Regions from separate parts of the Homo sapiens genome. Here region 1 is linked to region 2. Evidence: fine-mapped QTL for protein levels in blood plasma. Region 2 holds a variant in brackets. A gene starts in the other region. All regions are shown on their reverse strands.

Region 1 (8,000 bases), not on the chromosome of region 2:
GAAAGCAGACAAATAATTACATTCATAATTAATTGCAACTGGAATAAGCTGATGTCTTAAAGATAAGAGTTAGCTAACAACAAGATTGAGAGGTACAGAGGCCTAGCATCCTCAAGAGACAGAGAAGCTCCTTCAAAGGTCATAGTGAGACAGAAACATGGCAATGTGAGGGTCAAAAAGAAGCCAGTGTGGGTACAGCGCAGAAACCAGCAGTGCTGCAAACTGAACATTCCAAGAATGGGCAAGTAGTAGGCCAAGGTCAGATCATCCCCAATCTTGAAGATCAATGTTTGGAATTTACTTTTTTAAATAAAGCATCACTGGAAGTAACAAGTAGAAGCAAGTAACAAGCAGAAACAAGGAAGTTTAAGTAGACACAGTGTGCAGTCTGATTTTTATGCAGACAAGAAGAAAATTGCTTGGAGATGTATGAACATAGTCAAGACCCTACCCAGAACACCTGGGTTTGAGATGATGGCAGTCATGGTATGAGACACAGACAGACCAAAAAGATACTTGGGTGTAGAACACAAAAGATTCACCAATAGATTCAATTTGAAAGTCAGGGAGAAGTATTTACATCAGTGGTTCTCAAGGTTTGGTGGGACCTGGGACACTTGTTTAAAATGGAAGTTCCTGGGCCCATGCTCAGAGGTTCTGATTTTGTAGATCTTGAGTATAAAGATGCTGGAACCTGAATTTTTAATAAGCAGCTCTGGTAATTCTGATGATGATGGACCTCCGGCCACACTTGAGAAGGTACTAATTTAAAGGACTCCCAAACTTCTGGCTTACACAAGAGAGTGGTCAGGGTTGGCATGGGGGCACCATTTACAGAAAATGTGAATGATGATGGCCAAGAAAGCCTGTGAGTATGGGCCATGAATTCAGGAGCCTCTGCTCCTCATAGCCCCCTGGGAGCAGATAGACTAAGAGACTGACTGCAATTAATGTTTGGACTGTTTCTATAGGGCTGCCCAAGTGGCCTTTCTGATAGAAGTAGTTCATCAGCTAAGTGTCATTATCTGCCTTACAAACTTGATTCCATTTAGAATGCTGAGAGGTGGTTACTTCCAGGCATATGTCTGCCTTGACCCTGCTGACACTGGCTACCTGTGAGAGTACCACCTACTCCCTCCTCCTAGATCACTAGGCATCAGCCAAGCTGGCCTGTCACCACTCTGATACCAACTTGGCTTGCCCCATCACCATATTTAGTTCTAAATATCTAAACTACTTAAAATAGTTTCTGCCTGCCCTTTTTCAAAGATTAATTAATAGTCAGGGCATGGTGGCTCAAGCCTGTAATCCCAGCACTTTGGGAGGCTGAGGCGGGTGGACTGCCTGAGGTCAGGAGCTCGAGACCTGCCTGACCAACATGGAAAACCCCCGACTCTACTGAAAATACAAAATTAGCCAGACATGGTGGCACATGCCTGTAATACCAGCTACTTGGGAGGCCGAGGCAGAAGAATTGCTTAAACCCGGGAGGCAGAGGGTACAGTGGGCCAAGATCACACCACTGCACTCCAGCCTGGGCAACAAGAGTGGAACTCCATCTCAAAAATAAATACTTAAATAAATAATAAAGATTAATAGCCAGCTGCGGTGGCTCATGCCTGTAATCCCAGCACTTTGGGAGGCTGAGGCGGGCGGATCACCTGAGGTCAGGAGTTCAAGACCAGGCTGGCCAACATGGTGAAACCCAGTCTCTACTAAAAATACAAAAATTAGCTGGGTGTGGTGGTGCACACCTGTAATCCCAGCTAGTCAGGAGGCTGAGGCAGGAGAATCGCTTGAACCCAGGAGGTGGAGGCTGCAGTGAGCCAAGACGGCGCCATTGCACTCCAGCCTTGGCGACAGAGCCAGACTGTCTCAACAACAACAAAAAAGATTAATAGACTTTATTTTTTAGAGCAGTTTTAGGTTCACAGCAAAACTGAGTGGAAGAACAGAGACTCCCCAGATCCCTTTCTTTGCTGAGTGCCCTTTTTCTGGTACTGTACAATGCTCCAGGCCCATCTCCTACTTTCCTTGCTCCAGTCCTCCTGGAAACAGCCATTTCTCCAAGGAGCAGCCCTGGTTCCTTTTACTGGAAAATGATGTTAGAAACCAAGATCTGGGCTTTGTGTTTGTTGCTGCTTAAAGTGCTCCTGCTTGTAGGATCTCTCAGCCAACAGAGCAAGGAGGTCTATGTGTGTACTATGTGTATATAACATAATTACATTTCCCTTTTAACCAGCTGTATCTATATTAAGCTAAATATGAGTTCATACTGATGTCTTCAACTCTAATCTATTACCACATGAATCACTGTCACCACCTCACCTCGCTTATTTATTTGTAACTTCCACTCCAACGGTGAGACACCTGGCTCTCACCATCTGCCATACAGTAACTTAATTGTTCCATTCCAGTCCCCACATACAGCGGTGCCTGAACTGTTGACCCGTACCCCCATGCCTCATTCATTTTTATCCCTTTACCTTGCATTATTCTCTTCCATCGCACTCTACATTGTTTATATTCTGCATTTTATGCTTATTTATGTTTATTTTCTGTTTTCCTTCTCTATAACAGAGACTTTCACTGCTGAGTCCCAAGCATCTAAAATCTGCACAAAGTAGGTGTCCAGTGAATAAAGTGGAACAAATGAGCAGAAAATTGTAATGCTTATTATGTTAATTAAGCAGGTCTCAGGAGGGCCTTTCCTAGCCAGTCCTGTGTCACTCAGCTTTGAGATACTGAATCTATTTCAATCAAAGTATAATCATAGCATATAATTTACACTTTTCAACAATTCAACTCCTTTTCTCCCCAATTGCTACAATTATAACCACTTAACTAAAACAGTGAACTATTACAAACTCACATCCCCTATTTTTTCCTTTAAGGCCTGACTCTAACTACCACCACCTCCCCCCATCCCCATCCCTTGCCACCTTAAACCTCCTAGATAGACACTGCCAATCAGTTTAAATTTTCTAGACATTTTTATTCTGTCTGCTCTAGTTATCTACTGATTTTTCTTTCACACTTGTTAAAAACATGAATAACATAATCAATATCATAAATCCAAATCACAGAGTTAATGAGAAGTTATATAAACATTAGGCTGTTGATTTTCAGTTAATCTTCCAAAAGGACTGTGAAGGCCTATAAAACAATTTTTTGAAAAAGTACACAGATTTGCTCTCTCTTCCTTAGTGAAAGCCTGAGTTTTAAGAACAAAGACACTAACAGAAAACATATGGAAAAGATCAGTAACAAGATGGAATCTTGGCTAAAGTGTGGTCTGCCACGTTTTTCATACCAATGTCTCAAATAATAGACTAGATTTTTACAACTGCCAAAGCATCACTTGAAACACTGTATACTTTTCTTAATGCAAAGTTTAACAAAATAAATCTTGTGAGTTCTTTGTAAAAAGCTAATGGAAAACACTTTTTTGAGGAAACAAAATGAACTCCAGGATTCACTTTATCTTATTAGTTTGTAAAAGCTTAAAAGAATTCCCCCCCAAAATGAACTCCGAATCTACTGCCAAAAGACACAAGTCAACTCTCTGTTTAGAATATGAGAACAGTGTAAAAATTAAACATTAAAAACAGTTAACTGTTACTATTCAGGAGAGATAGCTCTATGAAATGAAGAAATTTTCTAAATCTACAAAATAAAGGCAATAGCTATTGAGTAACATAAGCTTTTCATCCCATTTTATTCAATACTACAGAATTATTTTGTGCAATAGTAAAAACAGGCAAATTGAAGATACACCTTTGGAGTGCAACCAACTGACTAATTTTATCTGAAAGGATATTAGAAGTCATTCTAGTGGGTACATCTGCCAAAAAGAGGAGAAATGAGATAGCTGATAAAAATGATGATAAAAATGAAGATGTAAGCCTTTGTATAGAAAAGTCGTATAGTTAATCTGTGTAAGCAATGACAATCAAGTGCATTTTAAAAATAAACAATGCGAAATGTTATGTTTCTAATCCTGATTTCTTGTTTTAACAAATAGAAGTACTGATATGAACCTAGGTGTTGAATAACCAAGGGACTCAAGAAATTTTGAGTTCCAGGCCAGGCGTGGTGGCTCATGCCTGTAATCCCAGCAATTTGGGAGGTGGAGGCGGGAGGATCACCTGAGGTCAGGAGTTCAAGACCAGCCTGGCCAACATGGTGAAACCCCATCTCTACTAAAAATACAAGAAATTAGCCAGGCATGGTGGCTCATGCCTGTAATCCCAGCTACTTGGGAGGCTGAGACAGGAGAATTGCTTGAACCCGGGAGGTGGAGGTTGTGGTGAGCCGAGGTTGCACCACTATACTCTGGCCTGGGCAGCAAAGCAAGACTCCATCTCAAAAAATTAAAAAAGAAATTTTGAGTTCCACCTTAAGTTGCTGAGACTCTGGAGTTCCCTGTCACAGTGGGCCTTAATTTGAAGAATTCTTTGGCATGAAAATGAAAATAAAAACAGTAATCAGTACATGCTGTTTCATTTAGTTTTGTTTGCCTTTCACATTAGAGGAAATTCTTGCCACACCTCAAACCAAAATTAAGGGGAAAAGAAAGAAGTAAGCCACATAAATCTGACCAAGAACACAAGCATCTTAATTTGAATCCACAAAGTTTCATGTAATGAAAAGAAATACATAATTTTAATTCAACCCGAGTGTTTTCCAAGAAGATTGTATTTGCTTAAATTGCTACAGTAATTCAAGAGACAGCCCTGTCTGGACACAGAGTTACTGTGGATTTTTAAGAGACTCAGTTAAAGAATTTAGGAATTTCTGATTCATTTAAAGGATTTACAAATTCATCAACCCCTGAAAACTAAAGCAAATTGAACAGGTATGATAATAAAATAATTTTCAATTTTTTAAGAATGTATTCCTACTGTTAAAATTTAAAAGTATATTGGATTTTTTAATATTAAAATAGACTGCATCTATTACAAAAGCACAATTTTTGGAAGCAAAATCTGGTAAAAAAGTTATGTTAAACTTTTGATTAGGCAAAATGTTCAAATAAAGTAGTATAATGAGTTTAACTTTCTCATTTAAGATTTACCCAATAAAAAATCTTTGTTTAGATTTTTTTTTACTTTGAATGAAAGGAAAGATTCTCAGGTTAAAGGAATCAATCTCTTTCTCTTCCTTAGGTCTCTTTTTTTCTATGAATTATAAGTAACAAAGAACCAGCTAATGCCTTTGAGGCATACAGCTGAGCAATGCTAGTGATTCCGGTTGGGGGGTTGATGGGCATTTGTACAAATTTCACTCAAGATTTTCTCCAAATTTCTCTACTGACTAAATCCCTGATATAGAATGTTTTTCTTTTCATTTACTTCTTTCTCAAAGGGAAAATACAGATGCTCTATCTAGTCTATTGAAGGATCTAGTTACTTTGGGTTTTAGTTAATTACGATTTAAATGTATTATGGCTAAAAATAATTGAGGTAATTGTATTTTTAATAGCAAAAAAATTTTATAAAATTAAAATTTAGAACTTTTTTGGAAAAATCTAAATTATATGCTAATATTTGCTTTCTTATATGCTAGTTTCTATGTCATACAAATAAAAACAATTATGTCTTTAACATAATAAAATGTTGAGGATTTTACTTTAAACTTTTCCTGAACAAGTAAATTATACCTCATTAGTAATTTCAATTGAAACTTTTCTTGATGAACACGAGTGCTTTTCTCCAAGTAAGAGAAATATTATGACACAGATGGTTTTATTGCTATAATATGAAAAATTCACATTGAAAACTGGTAATATATATATATTACTTTGCTCCAAACATTCTTTTTCACATTTGTTCTTTTCCTGCTACACGATGTACTAGGAAAGTGAGGAATACAGTATATTGTGATGAAGAAATATTCAATAGAAAAAGGAACAGTCAAGCTCTCATGAATATGTTCATTTGAAGAAATTATCATAGTGAAATAAATGCCTAGGAATAATCAACATTAGTAGAGAGAAGCATTTGCTAGCAAGCCTTAACCTATAACTTATTAACTTATTCATTCAACACACCTTTGAGCACTTATAACACTGCATTGTATTAGATTCTGTTAAAAGATATTAGGAAATGAGATGATCAACAATGAATTATACAATATTGCTGTGAGTTATCCTATAGAGAACAAGGCATACATTGTAGAGTATGAAAAGCAGAAGTAACAAAAATATGCTTAGCAAATGACTCAGAAGAGATTAGTTGGGGAATGAAAAATTTGGATAAAATAAGAGATTGTTGTAACAGGGGAAATTATCCTGGGGAAAGAGCAAGAGGCATAGAAAATAATGAGCATATAGATGAAAACAGGATGGATTTCAAAACAGAAAACTGCACTTAATCAAAGGGAGTGGGACAAGATTGTACTACATGGTTAGGAACGTGGAGGGAGGAGGACAAGGATGTTTAAGATAAGTTCAGGTTTAGAAGAGAAATTGTTCCTCAAGGAAAGACTTTCTTCTTAGGTGCTCACAAAGGCGGAAAGCAGACAATATTAAAAACCTCTTTATTTTCAGAGACGCCCCAGTCATGTCTTGATTCAAGGCCTTCTTCTTTTTTCCCAACAATTTTTCATAGTTGTTGAACAACAGACTCTAATTCTCAAATGTAAGGTTGATAACTGATGATTAGCTAATGTTCTCAACAAAGGGATAAAATTCAAGCTGAGTTTTCAGCCAGGCAGGTGGCTCACACCTGTAATCTCAGCACTTTGGGAGGCTGAGGTGGGCGGATCACCTGAGGTCAGGAGTTCGAGACCAGGCTGGCCAACATGGCAAAATCCCGTCTTAACTAAAAATACAAAAAAATGTAGCCAGTCGTGGTGGTGCACGCCTGTAATCCCAGCTACTCAGGAGGCTGAGGCACAAGAATCACTTGAGCCTGGGAGGCGGAGGTTGCAGTGAGCCGAGATTGTGCCACTGCACTCCAGCCTGGGTGACAGCACGAGACTCTTGTCTCCAAAAAAAAAAAAGTTAATATGTTATACTATAATAAGTACAATAAAATATTATAAAATTATACATAAAATATCATCAATGAGTATAAAATGTATAGAATATTCTATATCCATTCCTATTAATCTCCCAAAGTCTGGGTCAAATGATGTCTACAAAAGACTTTCCTGTCTCCGTAAGGCTGAGGTAAGCCACTGGCCCCACAGCATTGCCTATCTCTGCTATAAAGGATATTACCCTCTGCCTTAGATTAGGGTTCACTTTGTTGTATCTCTCTCCTCCACTAAGCTGTTTGCTCTTTACAGAAGGGACTATGGCTTCACGTCTTCTTCATTTCTGTATTCTCCACCAACTTAGCATAGTGCCTCATCACTAGAAATAATTCAGGACAACGGTAAACTGATGTAACCCAATCAAACTAACTACTAATATTTGTAAAGTGCTTCACTAAGCATGTTTACATACAGTAAAGTAGTAGAGTACACTAGGTGAATAAGCATTTCCAAGCAGACCCACTGGGAGCTTCCAGCCCAGCAAGGAGAGCCTGCTCTGAACACTGCCCTTTGGTATGATACCATAACTCCTTAAATCTACCTCCTTCCAAGATTCTCTACTTTTTCACCCACGAACACTGACTGTAGTGTGAAATCACAGCCCAAATATGTTAATTCATTAAATTAGGCATTCATTCCCAGAGTGCAAATTCCTCAGGTCAGAATTTAGGCCCTCCAAGGCCGGGGGTGGTGGCTCATGCCTGTAATCCCAGCACTTTGGGAGGCTGAGGGGGGCAGACTGGTTGAGCCCAGAAGTTCATGACCAGCCTGAGCAACATGGCAAAACCCTGTCTTTACAAAAAATTAAAAAATTAGCCAGGTGTGGTGGCACGCATCTGTAATCCCAGCTACTCAGGAGGCTGAAGTAAGAGAGTCACTTGAGCCCAGGAGATGGAGGGTGAGCCAAGAGTGCACCACTGCGCTCCAGCCTGGGTGACAGAGTGAGACTGTCTCAGAAA
Region 2 (11,182 bases):
GGCCTCCAAAAGTGAGCCACCACGCCCAGTAAAACACTTAAAATGTCACTTTAGGTCCTGTGGGAAGAGCAGCGTGGAGGTGGGCTGAGGTTAGAAGGTGCAGAGCGTGGAAGAAGATTGTGAGCTGAGTATTGGACATCTGTTCTTGAATAGTCCCTGGGCCTGCCATAGGAAAGGAAGTTCTCCAGGGTAAGTGACTTGGACTTTTCCTTTTCCTCTAATAACATTTTTTCTTGGGCTGTGGCCGAACCTTAGGATTCGGTTCATCCCTTATTCAGACCAGGTTAGCTTTTCCCTGCTCTCACCTAGCCATCCCACCTAGGCACAGAAGACCTTGCTTTCATAACAGATAGCTTTCTCCCTGAGGGGGGAACTCTGCCAGCAGTTAAAGGAGTGATTCCTTTCCACTACATTCTTGCACAGTTCCCATGAATTTGAAGGTAAAACAAAAAACATGAAAGATACTTTGAGCTCATTGTGAGCAATGTTGAGTATTCACTCTCCTTTACCATCAGAATTCCCTTGGGAATGTTTGAAAAACAGTGCTTTAGGGCTTTAACAAAGTTAAACACTGATGGAGGGGGTTTAATGCACTTAAAATAAAATCCAAACTCCTCTTCAGGCACAGTAGTATCCGGCCCCTTGGTACCTCTCTGACCTCTTCCATCCAGTCTCTCCTTTGGTCCACTATGATCCAGCCAGTTTGAGTTTCTTGCAGTTCCTAGAATACTTAGAGCTCTTTCCAGCCCCAGGGCCTTTGCACTTGCTGTTCCCTCTGCCTGGGATGCTCCTCTGCATGTTCTGCCCTTGACTGGCTCTTGCTCTTCTTTCCCTCCAATGCCATCTCCTCAATGAAGTTTTTCCTGATTTCTCCTCCTGATGCACTCCCTACCCTTGTTCGTCTTTATCCCAACATCTCCTTTGCTTCCTTCATAGCACTTACCATAATCTAATACTTTTATGTGTCACATTTTAATATCTGTTTCCCCCACTGGACCAAAAGCTTCAGGAGGATAGGGACCAGTACTGTTTTGTTTTTCGGTGCATCACTGGGAAGTGGCACAGTGCTGGGCTTTTAGTAGGATCTCAATATGTAAATACTGAATGAATGATTGAATTGAGTATAATGCATGCCCCTCCAAGGGATTCTTGAAGATGTAAAATCTGCCTTATCGAGGAACGAAGTTATGATAGTAGAAAGATGGCATAGGGTTGATATTTTAGATCAGGGAGATCTAGTGTGATACTTCCAGTTTCTGCCATCTGCTCTGCTGACCCAGAAGGCTGACAGAGCTCTTTTTACAAGAGGTTAAAAAAAATTCTGGGCTGGGCACTGTGGCTCACATCTATAATCCCAGCACTTTGGGAGGCTAAGATGGATGGATTGCTTGAGGCTAGGAGTTCGAGACCAGCCTGGGCAACATGGCAAAACCCCATCTCTACTAAAAACAAAAAAAATTTAGCTGGGTGTGGTGGTGCATGCCTGTAGGTCCAGCTACTTGGGAGGCTGAGGAAGGAAGATCGCTTGAACCTGGGAGGGGGAGATTGCAGTGAGCCAAGATCGCACCACTGCATTCCAGCCTGGGTGATGGAGCGAGACTCTATCACCAAAAAAGAAAGAAAGAACTTCTGAAGACAAAAGATTAGCTTTTGAGGACCCTTAGTAAGGTTTGTTCAACCAGAGGCATTGCTTTTGAAGACATGGGCTAGTATTTATTTTGTTTCCAAAATTTTAGATTTGGAGCAGTAAAAAATGATCACACACTTCACGATATATCAGTCTTTCAGGGAAGGCATAGTCCTTAACACTTGTTGATGAGTTTTAAGTTGATTCTCCTTTAAACAGATTTTTTTTCCTTTAATCCACAGGTTACAGTTCTTATCCGCGTGAATACACATGGCTCTGTTACGAAAAAGTAAGATTTCAACTTTTGAAAATAATGATTTAAAAACATATTTGGGAGGATGGTTTTGAGGCTGGGGCTTGGCTCTTTTCTTCTTTCTTGGATTGTGTTTGATTTTCATGGATAGTTTTCCCACAGGCACTTTTTGGCATCATCATTTCCAGATGATTCCCATGGAGAGTTGTTCAGTATTTTAGTCAGAAGTGGACTTATCGGCTGGGCGCACTGGCTCACGCCTGTAATCCTAGCACTTTGGGAGGCTGAGGTGGGCGGGTCAGTTGAGCTCGGGAGTTCGAGACCAGCCTGGGTAACATGGAGAGACCCCATCTCTACAAAAAATACAAAAATTAGCCAGGCATGGTGGCGGACACCTGTAGTCTCAGCTACTCGGGAGGCTGAGGCAGGGGGATCACTTGAGCCTGGGAGGCAGAGGCTGCAGTGAGCTGAGATTGCACCACTGCATGCCAGCCTGGGAGACAGAGTGAGACCCTGTCTCAAACACACAAAAAAAAAAAAAAAAAAAGAAGAAGAAGTGGAAGTGAACTTACAGCAGGGATCATATATTTCTATAAAACTTGCAAAAATAATGCATTTTCTCGTTCGGAATAAATATTCATGTTCATAGCTAATTTAGCATTTGTAATTTGTAATTTTGCGTTCTTAGTCTTAAAGAGTCATCTCGAATCTTCATACCCATCAGAACCTGGATTTGCCTCTGATTTTAGATCCAGTAGTTTGTGAATTTGAGGAGAAACATAGTAACCTAATTCTGTGACCCTCAGGGTAGAGTTGCCAGATTCAGCAAACAAAGACTCAGAACAGGACAACCAGTTAAATTTGAACTTCAGATAAACAACAAATAATTTTTTAGTATAAGTATGTCCCAAATATTGCATGAGACATACTTGCCTGGGTAATTTTTGTATTTTTAGTAGAGATGGGTTTTCACCATGTTAGCCAGGCTAGTCTTGAACTCCTGACCTCAAGTGATCCACCCGCCTCAGCCTCCCAAAGTGCTGGGATTACAGGTGTGAGGCACTGCGCCCGGCCGTGGCAGGTGAATATTAATCGGGCCTGTTGATAAACTGTAGAATTTTGTCCATTTTCTGTCCATTTTCTGCTTCTCTGTAGTTTTGTTTTAAATGGAGTCTAGTATCTGATTGTCCCTGGCTGAATCTGATAATCCATTAAGGCAGGGAGGAACTGGGTGTCAGCAAAATAGAATCACAGCCTCAGGATGTAGCTTTGGAGGGCATCCACGAAGACTCTTTTACAAATGGGAAGACAAAGGCATAGAGGCCAAAAAATAGATGCATATGAAGTCAATAGATTAAGTCTCTTGATGCATAAAAATAATAAAAAATAATACAGGCCAGGTGCGGTGGCTCATGCCTGTATTCCCAGCACTTTGGGAGGCCGAGGCAGGTGGATTGCTTGAGTCCAGGAGTTCGAGACCAGCCTTAGCAACATGGTGAAACCCCGTTTCTACTAAAAAATACAAAAAATTAGCCAGGTGTGGTGATATGTGTCTATAGTCCCAGCTACTTCGGAGGCTGAGGTAGGAGAATCACCTGAGCCTGCAAGGTTGAGGTTACAGTGAGCTGAGATCACACTGCTGCACTCCAGCCAGGGCAACTGAGGTGAGACCCTGTCTCAAAAAAGAAAAAAAAAGATAAAATAATAATAACAATGATGCATAACCATTTGTAAAGTCTTTATTGGGCCTGCATTGCCTTGGTTAACTCTCAAAACAGTAGTGCGAGGTAATGCTTATTATTACAATCTTCATTCAGCAGATAAGCACACCAAGCTCAGAGAGGTTAAGATACCCCTCGGCCATACAGCTAGGAGGTGGTAGAAAAGAGATTTGAGTCTGACTTCAAATTCACACCCTCTTCCCTTCTACCAACTTTTCCCAAACTTTAGGTAGGTGTGCACTACACATGCCAACATGCCATCTTCTCAATTTTTCATCAGCTGTGTTCCTTCTGTCCTAAACATTTCTTAATATTTTCTTTAGGCCAGGCACAGTGGCTCATGCCTGTAATTCCAGCACTTTGGGAGACCAAGGTGGGAGGATCACTTGTGGTCAGAAGTTCAAGATCAGCCTGGCCAACATGGTGAAACCCTGTCTCTACTAAAAATACAAAAATTAGCCAGGCATGGTGGTGGGGGCCTGTAATCCCAGCTACTCGGGAGGCTGAGGCAGGAGAATCGCTTGAATCCAGGAGGCAGAGGTTGCAGTGAGCCAAGGCTGTGCCATTGCACTCCAGCCTGGACAACAAGAGTGAAACTCCATCTCAAAACCAATTTTGTTTTCTTTGACTAATTTTAAAAATTTATAAGTGTACTTCATAATAGAAAGTTTTTATCCTTACTGCAAATGAAAACAGAATGATTTCCTATCATTAAAAAAAAAAGGTAGCTTTAAACACATATACAATTAGGAGAATGTGATTCAACTCTGGGTAGCTTTTGTTGTGTTCCTGCACATAAAATCAGAAAGATTGACTTTCTCATATGCTGATTAAATATTAATGCTATGAACATGAACTTCCTCAGTCATTTCATGCACAACCAGTGCTATATGTTCCATACTCAAGAAAACACTGTTTTACACCACTCTACTTCTCAACAGATCTCAAGGGCCAACATCACTGGAACAAACAGAGCTGGAGGCTTGGAGGCATTGAGGTCTTCTGTTTACCAGGGCAAGAATTTCTTTCTTTCTTCCTTTCTTTCTTTCTCTCTTTATTTTTCTTTCTTTCTTTCTTTCTTTCTTTCTTTCTTTCTTTCTTTCTTTCTTTCTTTCTTTTCTTTCTCTTTCTTTCTTTCCTTCCTTCCTTCCTTCCTTCCTTCCTTCCTTCTTTCTTTCTTTCTTTCTTTCTTTCTTTCTTTCTTTCTTTCTTTCTTTCTTTCTTTCTTTCTTTCTCTCTCCCTTTCTTTCTTTCTTTCTTTTCTTTCTCTCTCTCTCTCTTTCTTTCTTTCTTTCTCTCCTTCTTTCTTTTTTGACAGAGTCTCCCTTTGTCACCCAGACTGGAGTGCAGTGGCATGATCTCGGCTCACTGCAACCTCTGCCTCCCAGGTTTAAGTGATTCTCTTGCCTCAACCTCCTGAATAGCTGGGACTACAGGCATGCGCAACACCTGGCTAATTTTTGTATTTTTAGTAGAGATGGGGTTTTGCTATGTTGGCCAGGCTGGTCTCAAACTCCTGGCCTCCAGTGATCCACCTGCCTTGGCCTCCCAAAGTGCTGGGATTACAGGTGTGAGCCACCACACCCGGCCTGCACATCATCCTTGACCAAGGGTTGAATTAACTGAAAAGCAGCTGTGTCATAATGGCTAAGAACATGTATTTATAATTACTACTGGCTCATAAGAAGAATCACATAAATTCAACAAAATAAAAGCCACATACGGCAGACCCACAGCTAGTATCATACTAAATGGGGAAAAACTGAAAGCCTTTCCTCTTACATCTGGAACACGACAAGGATGGCTGCGTTTCACCACTGTTATTCAACATAGTAGTGGAAGCCCTAGCTAGAGCAATCAGACAAGCAAAAAAAATAAAGGGCATCCAAATTGGAAAGGAAGAACTCAAATTATCCTGTTTGCAGATGATACGTTTTTGTTTTGTTTTGTTTTGGAAGGAAGGTCTTGCTCTATTGCCCAGTGGTGTGATCTTGGCTCACTGCAACCTCCACCTCCCAGGTTCAAGCAATTCTCATGCCTCAGCCTCCCAAATAGCTGGGATTACAGGCATGCACCATCACGCCCAGCTAATTTTTGTATAATTTAGTAGAGATAGGGTTTCACCATATTGCCCAGGCTGGCCTTGAACTCCTGGCCTCATGTGATCTGCCCACCTCAGCCTCCCAAAGTGCTGGGATTACAGGTGTGAGCCACTACAACTGGCCAATATAATCTTATATTTGGAAAATTCTAAAGACTCCAGCAAAAAACTATTAGAACTGATATACAAATTCAGTAAAGATGCAAGACCCCTGAGCAACAATAGTGTTCCAGGTTAATTCTTTCTGTTTGTTTGTTTTTGTATTTGAGACAGGGTCTGGCTCTGTCACCCAGGCTGGAGTAATTTTGGCTCACTGCAGCCTCCACCTCCCAGGCTCAAGCCATCCTCCTATCTCAGCCTCCTTAGTAGCTGAGACTACAGGTGCATGCCACCACGCCCAGCTAATTTGTGTGTGTGTGTGTGTGTGTGTGTGTGTGTGTGTGTGTGTGTTTGTTGTTGTTGAGACAGGGTCCCACTCTGTTGCCCAGGCTGGTCTCGAAACTCCTGAGCTCAGGTGATCCACCTGCCTTGGCCTCCCAAAGTACTGGGATTACAGGCATGAGCTACCACACCTGGCCAGGTTAATTCTTTATTCTATATGCTGTCTGCTTATAGAAAGGTCTCAGATACCACTCCTCTGTGTCATGGAAGGCACCTACTCGCACTACCATTCTAAACTTTGTCACGTGATTTCAGGTTCATAGGTTCAATGTTAATGTGTTTCCATTTCTATTTCAGTTAATCAGGTGCTGCTGTTCCTTCTGATCGTGACCCTCTGTGTGATTCTGT[A/G]TAAGAAAGTTCATAAGGGGACTGTGCCCAAGAATGACGCAGGTGAGCAGACATGGAATTCATTGAGTTGGGATACCCAGGAATGTGGTTTGAATATGTTCCTCTAGGTCCTTTCAATAGCTGGGTTCAGGGACAAGTGACAGTTTGGTCAACTCCCAAGGACCTGCTAGTAGAATATCCGCCCTAGACCACCTTTTCAGTCGTGCCCTAGGATGGTCGGTGCTATTCAAACTTTAGCATGTGTGAGAGTCACATGGAGAGCTTGTTAAAACACAGCACTGGGCCCACCCGTGAGGTGTAGGATCAGTAGGTATGGTGTGGGGCCTCAAGACTTGCATTTCCGATAAGCTCCTGGTTGAGGCTGATGCTGTAGGTTCTTGGACCACAGGGTGAGTGCACTGCTCCACACTCCATCTCTTTGGAGCTTCTCAATGACTTTGCTTATGGAAACCACCCTCTTTCTCCTCTCCCTGCTGGTTCATTCCCATCAGTGCAAGTCAGCCTCATAACTCTCAACTTGAAAATGGCCCTTCATTGGCCCTGTGGTCTCTCCCAGCTGCACTGAGAACCATGTTTCCCTCCTCGGGGGTGAATTGCCTGAGATGGCACCTTCAAAACTCCAATGCACACACAAAGTCAACCTCCATAAAAATCAGGAAGCACTGTTTATTACATTTTTAATTAATTTACTTTTTTTTTTGAGACAGAATCTCACTCTGTTGCCCCAGCTCAAATACAGTGGCACAATAGCAGCTCCCTGCAGCCTCGACCTCCAGGGCTCAAGCAATCCTCCGGCCTCAGCACCCCAGGAAGTTGGAACTACAGGTGTGTGCCACCACGCCCAGCTAATTTTTTGTAGAAATGGGTTTTGCCATGCTGCTCAGGTTCATCTTGAACTCCTGGGCTCAAGCTGTCCTCCTACCTTGGCCTCCCAAAGTGCTGGGATTACAGGCATGAGCTCCATGCCCAGCTAATTTACTTTTTATATAAATCAAGCAAATACACACTTACGGGCTGGCGATGGTGGCTCATACTTGTAATCCAGCACTTTGGGAGGCTGAGGCGGGAGGATCACTTGAGTCCAGGTGTTTGAGACCAGCCCAGCCTAGGCAACAAAGCAAGACCCCATCTGCATGCACACAAAAAATTACCTGGGCATGGTGGGGCATGCCTATAGTCCCAGCTACTTGGGAGCTGGAATGAGAGGATCACTTGAGCCTAGGAGGTCTAAGCAGCAGTGAGCCCTGATAGTGCCACTGCACTCCAGCTTGGATGACAGAGTGAGACTCTGAATACAGTTATTTGGTGTGTTACATACATTTATTCCACAGTTTTGTTTTTTTTTTCAGTCAGACACTTAGGGACTGGAAACACAACAGTGAACAAAACAATATCCCTATTCCCAGGAAGCTGGCATTTCTTTCTGATTATATTTTGTAATTTAAAAATTCATTTAAAAATAATTAAAAACATGTATAATCTGATCTAAATGAACATGGAATCTGCAAAGAGAATGATTTTCATACAAAGACATATATACAAATGTTCTTAGGGTATAATTCATAGTAGCCCCAAACTGGAAACAATTCACATGTACATCAACTCGTGAGGGATACAAAAAATGTAATTTATCTCACACAATGAAATACTTTTCGACAGTAAAAAGGAACAAATGACTGATACAAGCTGCAATATGGATGAACCTGAAAAAAAACTATGCTAAATAAAAGAAGTCAGACCTGAAAGACCATATATTGTATGATTCCATCTATATGAAATTTCTAGAAAAGGAAAATCTATGGAGACACAGAGCAGATCAGTGGTTGCCTAGAGCTGGGAGTGGGAATGGACTGACTGCAGACCAGGCAGCTCAATGGAACTTTCTAAAATTGGATCTTGGTGATGGTTGTGCAATTCTATAAATTTACTAAACATCATTGTACTGTACGCTTACAATGGGTAAATTTTTAAAAATCTGTATTCGTTTGCTTGGGCTGCCATAACAAAATAGCACAGACTAGGTGGCTAGACCATAGAAATGTATTTTCTCTGGTTCTGGAGGCTGGAAGTCCAGGATCAAGGTGTGAGCAGGTTTTGTTTCTCCTGAGGCCTCTCTCCTTGGCATGCAGATGGCCGCCTTCTTGCTGTGTCCTCACGTGGCCTTTTCTCTGTGCTGCATTCCTGGCTGTGACCCTCTGTGTGATTCTCCTCTTTTCCTCCTTTTATTAGGATACCAGTCTTACTGGGATAAGGCCTACCAAATGGCTTCATTTTAACTTATTTGCCTTTTTAAAGGCAATTAAGTGCATGGACATCCTGAGATGCTGGAAGCTAAGACGTTAACAAACGGACTCTGGAGGACACAATTCAGTCCATAGCAGTATCTACACCTCAATAAACTGTTCTAAAAGAGAGAGAGAGAGAAGGAAGTCACATAAAGACAAATGTCATCTGAACTGACTCCACTCTTCATGCTTCAATCCCTGCTCATAAACCAACACATTCACTCAGCTAATCCCACCACAGACTCCCTTCTTCAGGAAAATAAGTGGATAGGTTTTAAAACAGCTGTTAAAACAGCTCCAAAGAAATGCACATCCTGACTGCCTAATCAGACCTATACAGAGAAACAAAGCATTTGGACCGCATGAATGGATCCATTATCACATGTTTATCCATTCAGTGTTAAAATTTTTTAAAATCGATGTTATAAAATACCATTCAAACGAATGTAGCATTGGCATGGAAGAATGCTTGTGGTATGTTAAATGGGAAAAGCAAGTTGCAGAAGAGACTGAAAAGTATGATTCCATTTTGGTTTTTAAATAATAAGTGTTTAAGGTATATATATATATATATATATATTTTTTTTTTTTTTTTTTTTGAGACAGAGTTTCGCTCTTGTTGCCCAGGCTGGAGTGCAATGGTGCCATCTCGGCTCACCACTACCTCTGCCTCTGGGTTCAAGTGATTCTCCTGCCTCAGCCTCCCGAGTGGCTGGGATTACAGGCATGCGCCACCATGCCTGGCTAATTTTGTATTTTTAGGAGAGATGGGGTTTCTCCATGTTGGTCAAGCTGGTCTCAAACGCCTGACCTCAGATGATCTGCCCACCTTAGTGTCCCAAAGTGCTGGGATTACAGATGTGAGCCACTGCGCCCGGCCCAGGTATATATTCTTTAGTATTACCATTAAGAAGGGTTTAAGGGGCACACACCACACTGGTTGTGTTATATATTGTTATAAAGCAGAGGTCTACTTTTGGAGTGGGAGTGAGAGGTCTGCAGAAAACAGTCACAATTTACCAAATACTCTTCTGTTTGGGCTGAAATTTTTTCAATAATTATGTATTATTTTTTATAATTTGAAAAACATTAATTCAAAGAACTAGTGTTCTAAGTTGATGTCCAGAGGCCCTGTGAAGTCCTACGTTCAAGTAAAACATGGCGGTATTCTCTGTAATATCCCCATTGTGACACTCCATGTAATCTCCCGATACTTCTCTTGTGACTAGTGTGCTGGTCACTCGCAGCTGTCCCACTTGGGGAGAGGTAAGCTGATACACTTGGCTAAAACAATCCTTATTTGAAATGGAATTCTGAGTCATGGCATTAGGAAAGCAGACATTTCCTTTCTTCTAGGAATAGGCGTGGCTTGATCAGAGCTGCTTATGGAATGGACGAAGGCAGTATCATTTCTGTTCCATTCTGCCAGCATTGTGATGTTTACTATTTTTGTTAGGCACCAAATAGTTTCCCATAGCCAACATTTTAATGCTTTGGCTCAGGCACCAGTTGGTACAATGAATCCAAATAATGGAGCAGATAATTCCTAAAGAAACTGCAAGGATGGAGCATTGATGAAGAAGGTACAGTTGATAAGCCTTTCTGCCACATTTCTCCAGTGTGCATTTGTCCTTCATTCTGTCCAGGGGGAACTTTTTGGCAGAGAGCAGTATTTTTGGCTTAAGTTAGTGCTCAGTTTCTCTACCTGGCAGAGGCCCCTAAGGAGTGTGGCAGTGTCATGTGTTGGCAGCAGAGCTGGACACTCAATGTTTGACCTTTTTCTGGAGTGTCCCCTCTTTTATGAGGACACTTTCCTTTTACCTTGTGCTTCCCACAGTCTGCTGAAGGCCTCCGTCTGACTCTGGCAGCCAGGCACAGCCCCAGCTTTTTTACCCTTCCCTCTTATTCCTCAAGGGCCCTGTTTTCTGAGACTCATTCATCAATTCCATTTAGTTCATTCCAGCAAACTTTCATTAAGCACTTCCAAAGTGCCAGACTCAGTGGGGATAATATAATGAGCTTACAGTCTAGTGGAGGAGACAGACACATAAATAGATTCTTCCAGGCATTGTGGCAAGTGCTCAAATAGAGATATCTAATATTCACCCATCTATTCAGATCGTATTGAAAATCTACTATGTGCCAGGCACTGGGACAGCTGCAGAGGATACAGAGATGAACAAAATACCTGCCCTCACAGAGCTCCTAGTGTAATAGGAGAAAGAGGAAAGACATGCAACCAAATAAATTCCAACGCAATTAATAAATTCAACCATAGGCAAGGCCACAGCATAGAGAAGGTGCGTGTTAATTTATGTGTAGGGAGGTATTAAAGGCTTCCCAGAGGATCTGATGTCAGTACTGCATTTGGAATGAATATGTAAGGGTTAGCCATGCAGAAAAGGA

Alleles and levels. Alleles are on the strand shown, and positions count from the first base shown. The strength of an association depends on the size of the effect and on how common the allele is.
For the plasma level of the protein whose gene starts at base 4,589 in region 1, allele A in region 2 goes with a higher level than allele G (moderate association).

The links. PIP is the chance, under the fine-mapping model, that this variant and not a neighbour inherited with it causes the effect. Protein levels are from antibody-based Olink assays in UK Biobank. Linkage for the fine-mapping came from a reference panel and not from the study's own genotypes, which makes the PIPs less certain.
Region 1: it holds the start of OMD, and the variant in region 2 is fine-mapped to the plasma level of the OMD protein (UK Biobank, PIP above 0.99).

What each region holds. Positions count from the first base shown.
Region 1 is chr9:92,421,060-92,429,059 of GRCh38, reverse strand. It overlaps OMD (osteomodulin), which reads left to right and starts at 4,589. Exons shown (of 3, transcript NM_005014.3): 1 at 4,589-4,858. All of the region lies in intron 5 of CENPP (centromere protein P), which reads right to left.
Region 2 is chr12:104,010,364-104,021,545 of GRCh38, reverse strand. GLT8D2 (glycosyltransferase 8 domain containing 2) reads left to right here. Exons shown (of 11, transcript NM_001384711.1): 2 at 55-189; 3 at 1,870-1,916; 4 at 6,441-6,533. The coding sequence starts at 1,898. Among named protein-coding and RNA genes, the nearest start is that of GLT8D2, 34 kb to the left of the region's middle. RefSeq lists a silencer at 6,957-7,179. The variant A/G (reference allele first, on the strand shown) is at 6,492.